2 separate regions of the Homo sapiens genome follow, and region 2 is linked to region 1. The links come from fine-mapping of genetic effects on gene expression. Tissue or cell type: tibial artery. Region 1 holds a variant in brackets; the other region holds the start of a gene. All regions are shown on one strand. Distances are from middle to middle.

Evidence for each region. PIP is the estimated chance that this variant, and not a neighbour inherited with it, causes the effect.
Region 2: TOX4 starts here. The variant in region 1 is fine-mapped to the expression of TOX4 in tibial artery (GTEx, PIP 0.97). The same link has a PIP of 0.9 or more in nasal epithelium.

Annotation. Positions count from the first base shown.
Region 1 is chr14:21,504,440-21,512,545 of GRCh38, reverse strand. It overlaps METTL3 (methyltransferase 3, N6-adenosine-methyltransferase complex catalytic subunit), which reads left to right and starts at 1,206. Exons shown (of 11, transcript NM_019852.5): 1 at 1,206-1,422. The coding sequence starts at 1,323. RefSeq lists an enhancer at 924-1,163. The variant G/A (reference allele first, on the strand shown) is at 3,372.
Region 2 is chr14:21,473,718-21,481,823 of GRCh38, reverse strand. TOX4 (TOX high mobility group box family member 4) reads right to left here and starts at 4,629. Exons shown (of 9, transcript NM_014828.4): 1 at 4,540-4,629; 2 at 4,260-4,328. The coding sequence starts at 4,545. It overlaps RAB2B (RAB2B, member RAS oncogene family), which reads left to right and starts at 4,865. Exons shown (of 8, transcript NM_032846.4): 1 at 4,865-4,997; 2 at 5,225-5,296; 3 at 6,890-6,957. The coding sequence starts at 4,952. RefSeq lists enhancers at 4,679-4,748, 5,329-5,448.

The DNA of each region.
Region 1 (8,106 bases):
GAGGCGGAGGTTGCAGTGAGCTGAGACCACGCCATTGCACTCCAGCCTGGGTGACAGAGTGAGTGAGACTCCATCTCAAAAAAAAAAAAAAAAGAAAATGTGTCAAAAAAAGAAAGAAAGAAAGGATTGTAGGAAAAACCACCACCACCAACCTTGTATTTAAGTTTACTACACATACAGAAAAGTGCACACCAAAATGTTCAGCTCAATTACATTTCACAAACTGAACACACTCATGCAGGTAGCTCTCATAACAAAAAACACAACGCAACCAGGACCTCAAAGCCCTCTTAGTGTCGGAACCCGATTTTAATAGATTACACGTACTTTGTAAATTTAGCCTAAGAGAGAGATCACGTATTTGAAGACCTCTCGGATTTTTCCTTCATCAGCCCTCCCCACTTCCCCACGCCTCGTCAACACAAAGAAGCATGCCCGCACCCACCACCGCCCCCTCCTCACCTCAGATTGGGGACCACCGTTGTGTTTTTTATTTTTTTGTAAATGAACGCATGGAAACAAACCAACACCACCTTCAGTGGAAAAGGTATGTTAGTACCAAACTGTCAAAAGGAACTAGTGATCCTTCATCTTAAAAATCTGTACTATGGCCGGGTGTGGTGGCTCACGCCTGTAATCCTAGCACTTTGGGAGGCCAAGGAGGGCGGATCACGAGGTGAGGAGTTCGAGACTGGCCTGGCCAACACAGTGAAACCCCGTCTCTACTAAAAATACAAAAAATCTGCCGGGCGTGGTGGCGGGCGCCTGTAATACCAGCTACTCGGGAGGCTGCGGCAGGATAATCACTTGAACCCGGGAGGTGGAGGTTGCTGTGAGCCGAGATCGCGCCATTGCACTCCAGCCAGGGCGACAGAGTGAAACTCCGTCTCAAAAAAAAAAAAAAGAAAAAAACCCCCAAAACTGTACTATATGGTGTTGCTCTCTACGAGTGCTACTTTAACACAAGTCAACTCTCAGGACTCCTCTCCGAATATTCAACATGGCCGCATGCGCGTCTATAAGCAACATGGCCGCTCTGCCAGTCACCAACATGGCAACCACAGCCTCACTGTGTCCGGAAGCATGAGAGAGCGGGTATGAGGACTATACCGGCCGCTCTGCCAACACCTAACGTGGCTCTTTATAGCTTCCAAGAAAGCGCGACACCGGAAATGACTTTTCTGTCTTGCTCAGCTCCAGGGGTCATTTTCCGGTTAGCCTTCGGGGTGTCCGCGTGAGAATTGGCTATATCCTGGAGCGAGTGCTGGGAGGTGCTAGTCCGCCGCGCCTTATTCGAGAGGTGTCAGGGCTGGGAGACTAGGATGTCGGACACGTGGAGCTCTATCCAGGCCCACAAGAAGCAGCTGGACTCTCTGCGGGAGAGGCTGCAGCGGAGGCGGAAGCAGGACTCGGGGCACTTGGGTGAGGCACTGGGCTGTTGGGGCCGAGGCTCAACCGGGGAGGACGGGCGGGATCCCTAGAGAAAAAGCTCCAGAGTCACTGCCCTTTACCAAACGGCCATTTCTATAAAGCCTCGTACATTGGTACTCCCTCTCCACCTTCAGCAGCAGACGTTCGCCCTTCTGCAAGTAGTTCGCGGTTCCTCCTCACGCTGGGCCTCGGTTCTTCCAGCTCACTTTTACCGGACGGACGCTTGAGCCCCACCCTCGTCCGCCTTGCCCACTCCTCTTCAGACTGCGAGGACGTCGCCTTTGTGAGGCTGCTCAGCCCCCTATCCCGCGAAGCAGCAAGAACCCCTTTTTGTTGCTGCTTTGGCGCTTTGTTCCCTCAGTTATAACGACTGTTTTGTAGTGGTCATTTCTTGGCAGCTGTGGGTACAGTAAGCGAGGAATGAACCTTTATATCCGCAGTGCCCAATTTAGTGGCCCGTACAGAGTGGCACTGGGTGTTTCTGAATGAGTACCCCTACCGGCATTGACTTAGCCATTTACATACCTAGCAGGAATCTGAAAACATTTGTGTTTGGTTTCCAAACTTTTTCTCTTCTCCTGTTGCCCCCGTGTCACGATCATAAAACTTGAAGGAAATTTAAAAGATTAAATTCACTGTTATCCACTCCCTACCCTCAGGACAAACTCTGAATTATTTAAGGCAAACTAGTAACAAAGCTCTGCAAAAATAGTGACTCAGTATCACCTTTGTGGTAGATTGTTCCAATATTTGTCAGTATCTTCAACTGCATCTCTAAATCTTGTCTAGATCATGTTAGGTTCATGTGCTCGTATTCTGGCCCCTAGAAATAGAAGATGCACTGGCAGGATCCTCCCACCTAATTAATTACCTTTCTTGAGTATCTACAGTGTTCATGGGTCTAATTAGACAAAAATAAGGAAGAAATTGCCCCTGTCCTCAAGAAGTTTAAAAAGCATAGGATTCAAGGGGAGACGCTTACAAAAAGTGAGGAATATGATAAGATATATGTACGAAACCAAATGAATGAATCTACAGTCTGTACAATGAAGAGAAGTAACAAGAGCTGGTGTAGGTAGTGAAGCCATCAAAACCATCATAGTGGAATTGGCACTTGAATTTGGCCTTTATGGCTATATAGGACCTAGATAATTAAAGAGGTAAGAGGGGAGGATAGTGGAGTAAGAAGTGCAAGTCATATGGTCAGGCAATAATTAGTAGTCAAGTCTCAGAGTAGTTCCTGAATTACCTAAGAGGGAGAATTTTTTTTCCCTTGCTCTAGAAACTTCATTGATTTATTTATAGATACAATTTTTTGTTTTGTTATGTTTTTTCCCCTATTCTTTGGTTTCCTGTTTTGAAACTTTTTAAAAATGTGCATAAATGATGCCAACGACTTTTTTTGCTTTTGTTTTTGAGATAGCGTCTCTCACCGTTGCCCAGGCTGGAGTGTAGCAGTCCTCCCGGCTCATCCTCCTGAGTAGCTAGGACTACAGGTGCATGCCACCATGCCTGGCTAATTTTTAACTTTTTAATAGAGATATGGTCTCATTATGTTGCCCAAATTTGTCTTGAACACCTGGCATCAAGCTGTCCTCTTGCCTAAGCCTCCCAAAGTGTTTGAATTACAGGTGAGAGCCACCATATCCAGCCTATTTAATTTTCCTGTGGAGTCTTTTCCCATTCAGCAATGGCAGTTGCAAAAGGGGACCTGAGGATCAGGTAGTTGTTTGTTTCAACAAAGTGATCTGCAAAATTATTTAGTTAGTTAGTTAGAGACAGGGTCTCCCTCTGTCACCCAGGCTGGAGTGCTGTGGCATGATCATGGCTCACTGCTGCCTTGACTTCCCGGGCTCCAGCGATCCTCCCACTTCAGCCTCTCAAGTAGCTGGGGCCACAGGCGTGTGCTACCATGCCCAGCTATTTTTTGTATTTTTGGT[G/A]GAGAAGGGGTTTCACCATGTTGCCCAGGCTGATCTCTAACTCCTGAGCTCAAGCAATCCACTCACGTTGGCCTCCCAAAGTGCTGGGATTACAGGCGTGAGCCACCATGCCTGGCCTACAAAATTAACTTTTAAAAAGCCGCTATATTGGTGTACTACATCATTGACTACTTTGTGTTCACCTTTCTGTCGTTTTTGTGACAGGCCATCCTCTATCTGTGGTGTTGTTTGTTGTTTCTTGGTTTTAATTGTTCCTCATCATACTTATTTATTTATTTTTGAGATGGAGTTTCGCTCTTGTTGCCCAGGCCAGAGTGCAATGGCGCGATCTTGGCTCACCGCAACCTCCGCCTCCCAGGTTCAAGTGATTCTCCTGCCTCAGCTTCCTGAGTAGCTGGGATTACAGGCATGTGCCACCACTCCTGGCTAATTTTGTATTTTTAGTAGAGACGGGGTTTCTCCATGTTGGTCAGGCTGGTCTCAAACTCCCAACCTCTGCTGATCTGCCCGCCTCAGTTTCCCAAAGTGCTGGGATTACAGGTGTGAGCCACTGTGCCCGGCATCATACTTCTTTATACTTTTCCATTTCTAAATTCATACTCTTTCAATGAATGATTCTAATTGCTCTTGGTCATTTTAAGTTTCATTTCATTTTTCTATGACATTAACTACATTTTGGTATTAACCAAACTTTCTGCTGTATGCAGACCTAACTACTAGAGCCTTGATACTTTGATCCAGGTCCTTGCTAAACATGTTTAATATTTTTGACAATAAGACTGTATTCTCCCTGCATGTACATATCCTTTTTTATTTTTATTTATTTTTTCTTTTTTAGATGTGAATATCTCTTGATTTGTATATTTAGCTAGTAATATAGCTAAGACCCTTTTCTGTGTGTGTGTGTGTGTAAGATAAGAATCTCGTTCTGTTACCCAGGCTGGAATTCAGTGGCGTGAACACAGCTTACTGCAGTCTCGACCTCAGGGCTCAAGTGATCCTCCTGCCTCAGCCTCCTCCTGAGTGGCTAGCACCACAGGTGTACCCTACCATGCCTGCCTACTTTTTAATTTTTATTTCTTTGTAGAAACAGGGCCTTGCCATGTTGCCCAGGCTGGTCTTGGACTCTTGGGCTCAAGCTATCCTCCCACCCTGGCCTCCCAAAGTGCTGGGATTACAGATGTAATCCCAGTCTAGTTAAGACTCTTATAAAAGTATTTTTGGGGTTGTAATTAAATGTATCTTGTCTTCTGACCGAGAGCTTGATCTGACCCATCATTTGGTACTGTGGTAATAGGTAAAGATGAAACATACAAATTAAACCAGAATGTCACTGTTCTTTCTGTGTTATTTTGATTATTTCAAAGAATGTATTTTGTTGAGCTTTAGGATTCTTAGGAAACCCTTGTGAAACACTGTATTGTAAGTTTATGAATCATGTTGTCATGTAAGATATAACTCAAGACTTGATAAAAGTTCAGATTATTCCATTCGTTTCTCACCGGAAATAAAAATTTGCCTACCACATCTGTTGCCCAGGCTGGAATGCAGTGGCGCGATCTCGGCTCACTGCAAGCTCCGACTGCCAGGTTCACGCCATTCTCCTGCCTCAGCCTCCCAAGTAGCTGGGACTAAAGGTGCCCACCACCATGCCTGGCTGATTTTTTTGTATCGTTTTTAGTAGAGACGGGGTTTCACAGTGTTAGCCAGGATGGTCTCGATCTCCTGACCTCGTGATCCGCCCATCTCGGCCTCTCAAATTGCTGGGATTACAGGTGTGAGCCACCGCGCCCGGCCACACCTTGTTTTTTACAGCATTACTGAAATCTGATAATTACCGACTACTGAACTGAGTGTCAAAAGACAAGGATATAAAATGAACTAAAATGTACCCACCACATCGTTAATAGTGGAAAATAATATGGGCAAAATATTGGGAGACCTTTGTTAGATTGGCATTTTTATTATTTATTTATTTATTTATTTATTTTTTGAGACAGAGTTTCGCTCTTGTTGCCCAGGCTGGAGTGCAGTGGTGCCATCTCACCTCACTGCAACCTCTGCCTCCTGGGTTCAAGCAATTCTCCTGCCTCAGCCTCCCGAGTAGTTGTGACTACAGGTGTCCACAGCCTTTGGAAGGCTAAGGCGGGTGGATCACCTGAGGTCAGGAGTTCAAGACCAGCCTGGCCAACATGGTGAAACTCTGTCTCTACTAAAAATATAAAAATTAGCCAGGTGTGGTGGCAGGTGCTTGTTGTATGTACTACAGGCACATACAACCTTGCCTGGCTAATTTTTAGTATTTTTTGGGCAAAACGCCCAACAGGGTTTTGCCATGTTGCTTAGGTTGGTCTTGGACTCCTGAGCTCAAGTGATCCTCCATCCTCAGCCTCCCAAAGTGCTGGGATTACAGGCATAAGCCTCCATGCCTGGCCTCCTTCCTTTTGAAGGATAAATAATATTCCACTGTATGTATATAACACATTTTGTTCATTCATCCATGGGTGGGCGTTTGGGTTACTTCTACCTTTTGGCTATTGTAAATAATGCTGCTATGAACCTGGGTGTATGAATATCTCTTTGAGACCCTGCTTTAATTCTTTTTTGTTTTGTTTTTTCTTGAGACGGAGTCTCGCTCTGTCACCCAGGCTGGAGTGCAGTAGCGCGATCTCGGCTCACTGCAAGCTCCACCTCCTGGGTTCACCCCATTCTCCTGCCTTAGCCTCCTGAGTAGCTGGGACTACAGGTGCCTGCCACCACGTCCGGCTAATTTTTTTGTATTTTTAGTAGAGACGGGGTTTCACCGTGTTAGCCAGGATGGTCTCGATCTCCTGACCTCGTGATCTGCCCGCCTCTGCCTCCCAAAGTGCTAGGATTACAGGTGTGAGCCAACCACGCCCGGCCGAGACCCCGCTTTAATGCTTTTGGGCATATACCCAAAAGTGGAATTGCTAGATCATATGGTAATTCTATTTTTGATTTTTGAGGAAGCGCCATCCTAATGGGTGTTATATATCTCATGTTGGTAAAGTATATTTTTTTAAAAAGAAAAATATTACTTAAAAAAATCTTTATTTTGGCCTTGGCAACAGAGCAAGACTCCGTCTCAAAAAAAAAAACTTTATTTTAATGGAAACAAACTATATTTGGCCAGGTTTAGCACATAGTAAATATGTGAAGTGCTCCAGTATATTTCTTGAGATTGAAGATGTGCATATAGATGTTGACACGTTTAAGGATTCAGCAAATTTGTAATCAGACCATATTAATTTCAGTGGTTCTCTTAATTAAAGGGTGAATCAAGTGTTATGTATTATTTTGCTAAACCGAACACATTATTTTCGTTAGATTAGAAGCAGAATGTCAGTGTAGTTGCAGCAGAGCGGAGGCATTGAGTAAATGTGTTGAATAAATAAATGAATAAATACCTTATGAAGGATTTGGAACCCAGGGATTCTTATCATTTTCTGGACAGTAACCGGTTTTAGGGATGATAAAACTTTTCCCCAAATGTCTGTATACATACAAAACTTTGCACGTGAAAAGTTTAGGGAATTTCACCTGAATAACAATTGTATTAACCAGCAGTTAAGTTTTATCCACCACATTAAACATAAGCTCCCTCCTCCTGATAACCTTAAAAAAGGTATTTTCAGCTCTAATATTCTGAATGTAATGTTGGGGAAAAAAAACCTCCCAGGAGGTGTTATTAATACAAGGATTCATAACCAGAATTACATCACCAGATATTGGAATGAGCAGTATTAAATCAGTCAGATTACCAATGAGAAAAGTCAATACCAACTTGTAAGGACTGAAATATTTATGTTAACATGGTTCTTTTTATAGATTTCTCACTTAAAAATTTTCTCACTCACTTAATTACTCAAAGAACATCTTCAGTTACTAACTGGAGAAACTGAAAATGAAAGAAGAAATGGGTGAGAGTGGAATCCTCCCACCTCAGCCTCCCCAGCAGCTGGGACTACAGGCACAGGCCACCTTGTGTGGCTAATTTTTAAAAAAATTTTCTTTAGAGACACTGGGTTTCACCATGTTCCCCTGGCTGGTCTGGAACTCCTGGGCTCAAGTGATCCTCCCACCTTGGCCTCTCACAGTGCTGGGATTACAGAGATAAGGCACCACACCAAGCCCTGAGTCAGATTTTAATAAATTCAGTTTCCATTAGAGTGGAAAATTTTCAAATTAATGAATTATTTATTTATATATTTTTTGAGACAGAGTCTTGCTCTGTCGCCCAGTCTGGAGTGCAGTGGCATGATGTTGGCTCACTGCAGCCTCTGCCTCGTGGGTTCAAGCAATTCTCCTCCTTCAGCCTCCCCAGTAGCTGGGATTATAACCTTGCATCACCACCCCCAGCTAAATTTTTTTTTTTTTTGTATTTTAGTAGAGATGGGGTTTCACCATGTTGGCCAGGCTGGTCTCGAACTCCTCACCTCAAGTGATCCACCCACCTTGGCCTCCCAGAGTGCTGGGATTACAGGCGTGAGCCCCAGTGCCTTACCAGAATGGAAATATTTAAGTAAACAAAATATTTCTAAATGTAAACTAATGGCCTACTTATTTAGCAATTTCAGTTCAGTTCTTAGGAGTTTAATATTTCATCTATATTTTAATTAACCACAGATATTAGGCTTTCTCAAAGATAACATTTTGTCCTAATTTTAGTTTCTCAAATCGTTATTAAGGTTATGATGGCAACCCAGCTTGTGAA
Region 2 (8,106 bases), 31 kb after region 1:
CTCTTTTATGTCTGTCTTTTTCTACTCAACAAAATATTGTTTAGATTATCCAATTGCATTTATAATTTAATTTTTTATATCTGTGTAGTATTCCTTTTCACAAATACACCATTTTTTTCTGTTGATAGACATGAGTTGTTTTCAGGGTTAAGCTAGTAAGAATAAAGTTGTTGTGAACATGTTTTTGGTGAACATATGCAATCATTTCTGTTGTGTACATATCATGGAGTGGAATTTACCTGGTCATAGGTTAGGGGGGCATGTTTATCTTTAGTAGGTACTGCTAGTTTTCCAGTGGCTCAATTAACTTACACTCTCACTAGCAATAATTAAGTTATCCACATCCACTGGGCAAGGTGGCTCACAGCTATAATCCCAGCACTTTGGGAGGTTGAGGCAGGTGGATCACTTGAGGTCAGGAGTTTGAGACCAACTTGGCCAACATGGTGAAAACCGGTCTCTACCAAAAATACAAAAATTAGCCAGGTGTGGTGGCACATGCCTGTAATCCCAGCTACTCAGAAGGTTGATGCACGAGAGTTGCTTGAACGTGAGAGGTGGAGGTTGCAGTGAGTCGAGACCGCACCACTGCACTCCAGCCTGGGTGACAGAGCAAGACTCTGTCTCAAAAAAAAAGTTATCCACATCCTTGCCAACTCTCACTGGCAATTTGGACGTCTTCTTTTGTGAAGTGACTGTTCAAATCTTTTGCCTCCTTTTATTTTATTTTTTTGAGACGGAGTTTCTCTCTTGTTGCCCAGGCTGGAGTGCAATGGTACAATCTCAGCTCACCACAACTTCCACCTCCCAGGTTCAAGCGATTCTCCTGCCTCTGCCTCCTGAGTAGCTGGGATTACAGGCATGCGCTGCCACACCCGGCTAATTTTGTATTTTTAGTAGAGAAGGGGTTTCTCCATGTTGCTCAGGCTGGTCTTGAACTCCCGACCTCAGGTGATCCACTCGCCTCAGCCTCCCAAAGTGCTGGGATTACAGGCATGAGCCACCACGCCTGGCCTTTGCTTCCTTTTAAACTGGATTCTTTCTTTTACTCTGCAGAAGTACTTGATATATTCTGAATATGAGTTAGATATATGTATTGTAAATATCTTCTCCCAGTCTGTGGAATGCCTATTTGTTAATCATGTTTTTTGATGAAAGGAAGTTCCTAATTACAGTGGAGTCCAATTATTCATTTTTTTTAATGGTTAGAACTTTTTATGGGCAACTACTTTTTTGGGGGAGGGTCGGCAAAGTCTAAAAATTTCCTCTCTTGTAAAAAAAAACTTTTTTTTAATATTACCTTTACCTACTTCTAAGATATATTTGGAATGGCTCACAGTAAAACCATAACCCCATTAAAATAAAAGTTATAAACAACCATTACCACCGCTACCAAGGGAAAGGGAAGGTGTAGAAGTTGTAATGAGAAAATGGAGAACTGTTAACAATGACAGGAGCCTTAGGCAAAGGAAGCTACTGAAATTGAGCCTAAAACTTAGCTATCAGTTTCTTGGCAAAATAAAATAAGATTTCTTAAGTCACAAAAACAAAAACAAAGGACAGATTCAAACCTGGAAAGTTTCTTTCTTTTTTATTATAATATTACTTGTTAATACTTTAAATTTACTTTTCTTCACTATACACCATGATTCTTCATGGGAAGTTTCTTGATGTGAAAAGGAACCACTTCTGTCCTGGCATGGTGGCTCACACCTACAATACTAGTACTTTGGGAGGCCAAGGTGGGAGGATCGCTTGAGCCTAGGAATTTGAGACCAGCCTGGACAACATGGTGAGATCCTGTCTCTATTAAAAACAAAAGCAAAAGCAAAAAGGAACCACTTTTTTAAATGTGGCTACCTCTTGATTGTTCAACTTCATAAATGGGGTAGAGAATTAAGAACAGTGGGTAAACTTGAAAGCTACTTGTATTTAATTTTAAAATGCACTTTCTCATGAACGAGGCCAACGTAAAATTTATAACACTCTAAATAACAAAATTTAAACTGTGGAGACCTGATTGAGGAGAAATTGGGAATTTCATGCAGGTAAGTCCAATGTGAGATTTGCAACACTCAAATAATGAAATTTAAAAATGAAGATCTCACTTAGAAGAAAATGGCAACTAAGAGTGCAAAGCACCAAGCAGATTTTAGCTGTTTTTGTTTGTTTGTTTGAGATGGAGTCTCACTCGTTCACCTAGGCTGGAGTACAATGGCGCAATCTCGGCTCACTGCAACCTCTGCCTCCCAGGTTCAAGCGATTCTCCTGCCTCAGCCTCCTGAGTATCTGGGATTACAGGCGCGCACCACCACACCCGGCTAATTTTTGTATTTTTAGTAGAGATGGGGTTTCACATGTTGGTCAGGCTGGTCTCGAACTCCTGACCTCGTGATCCGCCCTCCTTGGCCTCCCAAAGTGCTGGGATTACAGGCATGAGCCACCGCACCCCGCCTCACCTGTTTTTTTAAAATTAATTATTATTATCTTTTATAGAGACAGAGTTTGATCACGTTGCCCAAGCTGGTCTAGAACTCTTGGGCTCATGCAATTCTCCTGCCTCAGCCTCCCAAACAGTTGGGATTACTGGCACGAGCTACTGTGCTGGGCCCAGATTTAGGTTTTATATCATTTCAAAGTTTGCTGCATACTAGATTCACACTTATCCTGCTTATGAGAATAATAAATAAAAGCAACAAAAAAGTTAAACTGGCACTGGGCACATTGGCTCATGCCTGTAATCCTAGCACTTTAGGAGGCTGAGGCGGGCAGATCACTTGAGGCCAGGAGTTAAAGAGCCTGGGTAACAGGGTGAAACCCCGTCTCTACAAAAATTCAAAAAAAAAAAAAAAATTAGCTGGGTGTGGTGGCGCACACCTGTATTCCCAGCTACTTGGGAGGTTGAGGCAGGAGAATCACTTGAGCCCAGGAGGTGGAGGCTGCAGTGAGCCAAGATCGTGCTACTGCACTCCAGCCTGGGCTACAGGGAGACTGTCTCAAAAAAAAAAAGAAAGAAAAAAAAAGTTAAACTAGCAACTGGCCCTTGTCAACCCCATTTTCATCCATGAAAACGTTAGGATTATAGGATAAGCCCATGCAACAGCCACTGACAATTCTTGGTAAAAAAAACTGATGCAAATGGTCCACACCACTTTTGAAAATAAATATAAAAGTCCTCAAAAAATGGCAGATGGTTCAAGACTTCAGTTTCTCAAAGACAGAAATTTTTGTCTGTTCCACCATTCTCTTTTGCCTCTCCCAAACAAGTGATACATATCTATATTATGACAATATTTCAACCAAACTTTTTTAACGAACACTTCAGGGTTTCATCATAACCTTTACTTCTACTTTAAAACAGCATAAGAAACTATAATTACAGCTGTTTGACAGCTGGGGAAACTGTGACATACAAAGATGAAGTAATGTGCCCAACGTCTGAGTCACTGGCAAATTGAAACACATGTCCTACTCAACTCTTTTATATTCTCTAGCAGCTATTTCCTTTCCTCCTGACATTAGCAAAACAAGCTGACACCATGTAGGTAAAGGTAACCACAAATTTTTTATCAAAGTAGGAAATTTAGGCCGGGCGCAATGGCTCAGGCCTGTAATCCCAGCACTCCGGGAGGCCGAGGTGGGTGGATCACCTGAGGTCAGGAGTTCGAAACCAGCCTGGCCAATATGGTGAAACTGCCATCTCTACTAAATATACAAAAATTAGCCGAGCGTGGTGGCGCACGCCTGTAATCCCAGCTACTCGGGAGGCTGAGGCAGGAGAATCGCTTGAACCCAGGAGACAGAGGTTGCAGTGAGCCGAGATCGCACCACTGCACTTCAACCTGGGCGATAAAGCGAGACTCTGTCTCAAAACAAAAGAAAACCAATAAGCTCCTCCCCTCAACCCCAATTTCTTCAGCTGCTGAAACATTTTCTTTCCACTGCGATCCCCTAAGATTACTGTAGCTATTTCTCCCCAGAGAAAGGAGACAATTCCACTCTGTCTTCTAATCCAGAATCCCTTTTCTCTTTAAACAGGTTATCTCTTTCCAATACCTTGCTTTCTGATGACAGCAACTTCCCAAGACTTCCCCAGATAGTCCCCACAGGCTCTAGAAGCAACCGCCACTTTTCTCTAAACACCAATTGCGGCCCTTGGTTCCCAGCCCCCGTCCCCGGAGTCCGTGCTCTCCTCCCCACTACCCTACCCCACCGCTGCCTCAGGCCCTACCCCCGCGGCGTCGGCAGCTCTGGCTCACCTCGGCCCCTGACAGGAAGGGGTGCGAAGGCCCTGTGATCGTCAGGTAATTGTCATTTCCTCCGGGAAACTGGAAACCAAAAGAAAGTCGCGGGGATAAGTTAGGGGGAGCAGGGAGTCAGCTTGGAGCGATGGCTTTTGACCCTGACATTCTGACAACACTCCCCAAACCCCGCTCTCTCTCCTCTCCCGTCAGTCGCCTCTCCGCCCGGCTTCCCGTCCCTGCTTCAACCCGGTCGGCCGCGTTCTCTCGCCAGCCTTCTTAGCTATCAGGTTCCTACCTCCATCTTCACACAACCGCTCCCACCGTCTCAGACCCTCATCGCTCCCACCGCCCCCACTGGACTCGGAACTGCCGTCACTTCCGCAAGGACGTGTGTTCTCTCTGCTGATTGGAAGGAGCGCCGTGGGGCTGCAGAGAGTCAGGCGCTGGGCTATCGCCCCCTGGAGTTTGGAGGGATAAGGGCATGTAGAAGTGCTAGAAGCGTCCCTGGAGGTGGCGTAGGGTACTCCCGACCTAAGGATGATTCCGGGGAGTGCAATAGAGACGTGATCTGGGCTAGAGGAGCCGGAGGGGCGGGGGAGCGGGGGGAAGGGGGAGAAGAAGAAGATCGGTAGATTGAGTGGCTAGAGAGGTCGGAGGTAAGTGGCTATAGAAGTCGGGCGGACCCGGAACCCAGAGGACGCGACACCATGACTTATGCTTATCTCTTCAAGTATATCATCATCGGAGACACAGGTAACCCTCAGGTGGTTCGCCTTCAAGGCTCGGGCGGGCATTCGAAGCTCCCAAATTGGGTGGCGGGGGCGGGGCTCACTTTGTGGGCTGGGCGATTCGAGACGGGCGGGGCGGTTCGGGGCGGCCGGGGGCGGGGCTCGGGAGCCCCCCTTCTCTGGTCCGGGAAGTCCATACTCTGGAAGGTGTTCCAGGGCTGCGTGATTCCGGGAGTGTGCTTTCTCTTTCAGGTGTGGGGAAGTCATGTCTCCTCCTGCAGTTTACAGATAAGCGGTTCCAGCCTGTCCACGACCTCACAATAGGTAAGTGCATCTACTTGTTCCAGAACAGATGATAAAACCTGACTAGCTAAATTGCTAAAGTGGAAAGTTAGCAGCCTTCAGTGTTCGAAGTAAAAAGTTACCCCTCACTACTTTAAACTAGTCCAAACTTATGTTAATGAAGTGACCAATGAAACGTTGATATGTGGGGAGTAGTGTAAGGGAGAGTATATAATTGAAAGGTAACTTTTTAGAGTGTGAGGTATAGACTCGTCATATAATTTTTTTTCAAATACAATTTGTATGTTTATGGAAAATCCCACGAAAGCATAACTGCTTATTTATGAACTCATCTGTGCTTTGAGGTAAATTAATACCAGCCTTACTTTTAAAAAGTAAACACCAATACATGGACATTTTTTATATTGGTGAAGAAGCAAATTGAGGAGTCATCCCTGCCTTAGAATTAATAGGCAAATAAAACTAAAAACTTTCCTTTTAAATGAAAGAGTGTGTTAACAGTTCCTCAAACGCACTGGCGATCCTGGAAAATATTAACCTTTCCCACACGTTTGTGATAAGGCATGGCCTGAAGAGGCTTTTAACTACCCCCTCTTCGTTATCTCCGTAACCCCAGTCCAAATAAACAACATATATGAAACTAGCTTTCTTGCCATGCAAATGCAGTTTCTAAATAAACCCCTACATCCCCATTCTTACCATATTGCTACTTCCAAGTCCCACCTGTATGGAAACCTGAAGCTACCACTGTTCCTAACGGATTTATTTAGAGTCAAATAATTGATGGGGTTAGAAAAGGATTTGGCAGTATCAACTAAAAGGTATTTTAAAGGGAATATTGAGCGAATTCTCACTTTGCGATAGGGGCTAATGATACAATGCTTAACAAGGCAACAATGCTTAATTGTGCCTCTGGCAATTATTGGAAATGTAAAATGTATTGTTAAAAAAATTAGGTGGGCGTTGTGGCGTGTGCCTGTAAGGTACTTACTTGGGAGGCTGAGGCAGGAGAATCACTTGAACTCAGGAGGTGGAGGCTGCAGTGAGCTGAGATCGCACCACTGCACTCCAGCCTGGGTGACGGAGCGAGACTCCATCTCAAAAAAAAAAAAAAAAAAGTATTGTTTCTGAGAACCTATTTCTTAGGCTCTTTTCTTAAAGAAAAACATCTGGAATTGCAAAAAAATAAATATTGTTTTAAGTAGAGACTAAAGAGTGACTGAGAAAGTGTCAGGAAATATTTCCAAAATTTTTAGTTTTTTGGAAAAGTTACAAAACTAAATGTTACCTAACCAAATTTAAGCATTAACCTAACATTGCTAAAAAAGTATTCACCTTTTTAAATTTGACTTCTTAATTGGTTTTATTTTCCCATATCTGCTTTTTGGTTACATTCCTGAGGTCATTGAGCACAATTTTTTAATTCTAGAAGGGAAATGAAGAACCTTAAGAAACACAAAATTAATTGGAGCAAATAGGCAGCAATAATGGAATTAGTGGCATTGAGTTCAGACAAAGGATGGTTATAACACATTGAGGAAAGGCAGGAACCTCCCACTCCACGTGGCTGCTGTTCGTGAGAATCACATTCTTTCTCTCGGTCTTTACCGACAGGTGTGGAGTTTGGAGCTCGTATGGTCAACATTGATGGAAAACAAATCAAACTGCAAATCTGGGATACGGTGAGAGTACAAAATAATTTAGTCTCTGACCAATATCCAAGTATAACAAGAAAAGCTGATGCAAAGGAAAGGGGCGATGAGGGTGGAACTAATGGTGGGGATAAAGTAGGGGAAAGGTGAAATCAAAGAGAGAAGTTTTTGATTCTGTTACAGTTACAAATTCTGGATGCTGTATCTTTGTGTTGTAAACGATCCAAGTAATAGTTTATTCTAGTAAAAATAAAATCAAACAATATAAATTTATAGAATAGAAAGTAAATGTCCCCTTTTGATACATAAACTCTTTCTCCCTTCCCATCTTGGTTGGTACTCTAGCAGGGAAATCATTACTGATGATTCCACGTGTATGCTTTCAGACTTTTTCTATGCATTTAGATACATACATGTAAACACATAGAAATATATGGTAGTAGTTTTGTTTTTATTAGTGTTTACATGTATAGAATCGTGACAGAGTAGACCTAGTTGTGTGACTTAGATTGTATATTAAACAATCTCTATGTTGTGGGGACCTTTCCATATCAATACATATAGATCTGTCTCATTCCTTTTAACCACTGCGTAGTCATGGAATGTCAGTAGCATGATTTATGTAACCATCATCCTACTGATAGAAATTTGGGTTGTTTTCCAATTTTTAAGTATTGCAGAATTTCACTGAGCATTCTTTTTTTTGAGACAGAGATTCACTCTTGTCACCCAGGCTGGAATGCAATGGCGTAATCTTGGCTCACCGCGACCTCCACCGCCTGGGTTCAAGCAATTCTCCAGCCTCAGCCTCCTGAGTAGCCGGGATTACAGGCACCCACCACCACACGTGGCTAATGTTTTTTGTATTTTTTGTATTTTTTTTCTGAGACGGAGTCTTACTCTGTTGCCCAGGCTGGAGTGCAGTGGCGTGATCTCAGCTCACTGCAAGCTCCGCCTCCCGGGTTCGTGCCATTCTCCTGTCTCAGCCTCCCGAATAGCTGGGACTACAGGCGCCTGACACCACGCCTGGCTAATTTTTTGTATTTTTAGTAGAGAGGGGGTTTCACCGTGTTAGCCAGCATGGTCTCGATCTCCTGACCTCGTGATCCGCCCGCCTCAGCCTCCCAAAGTGCCGGGATTACAGGTGTGAGCCACCACTCCCGGACGTTTTTTGTATTT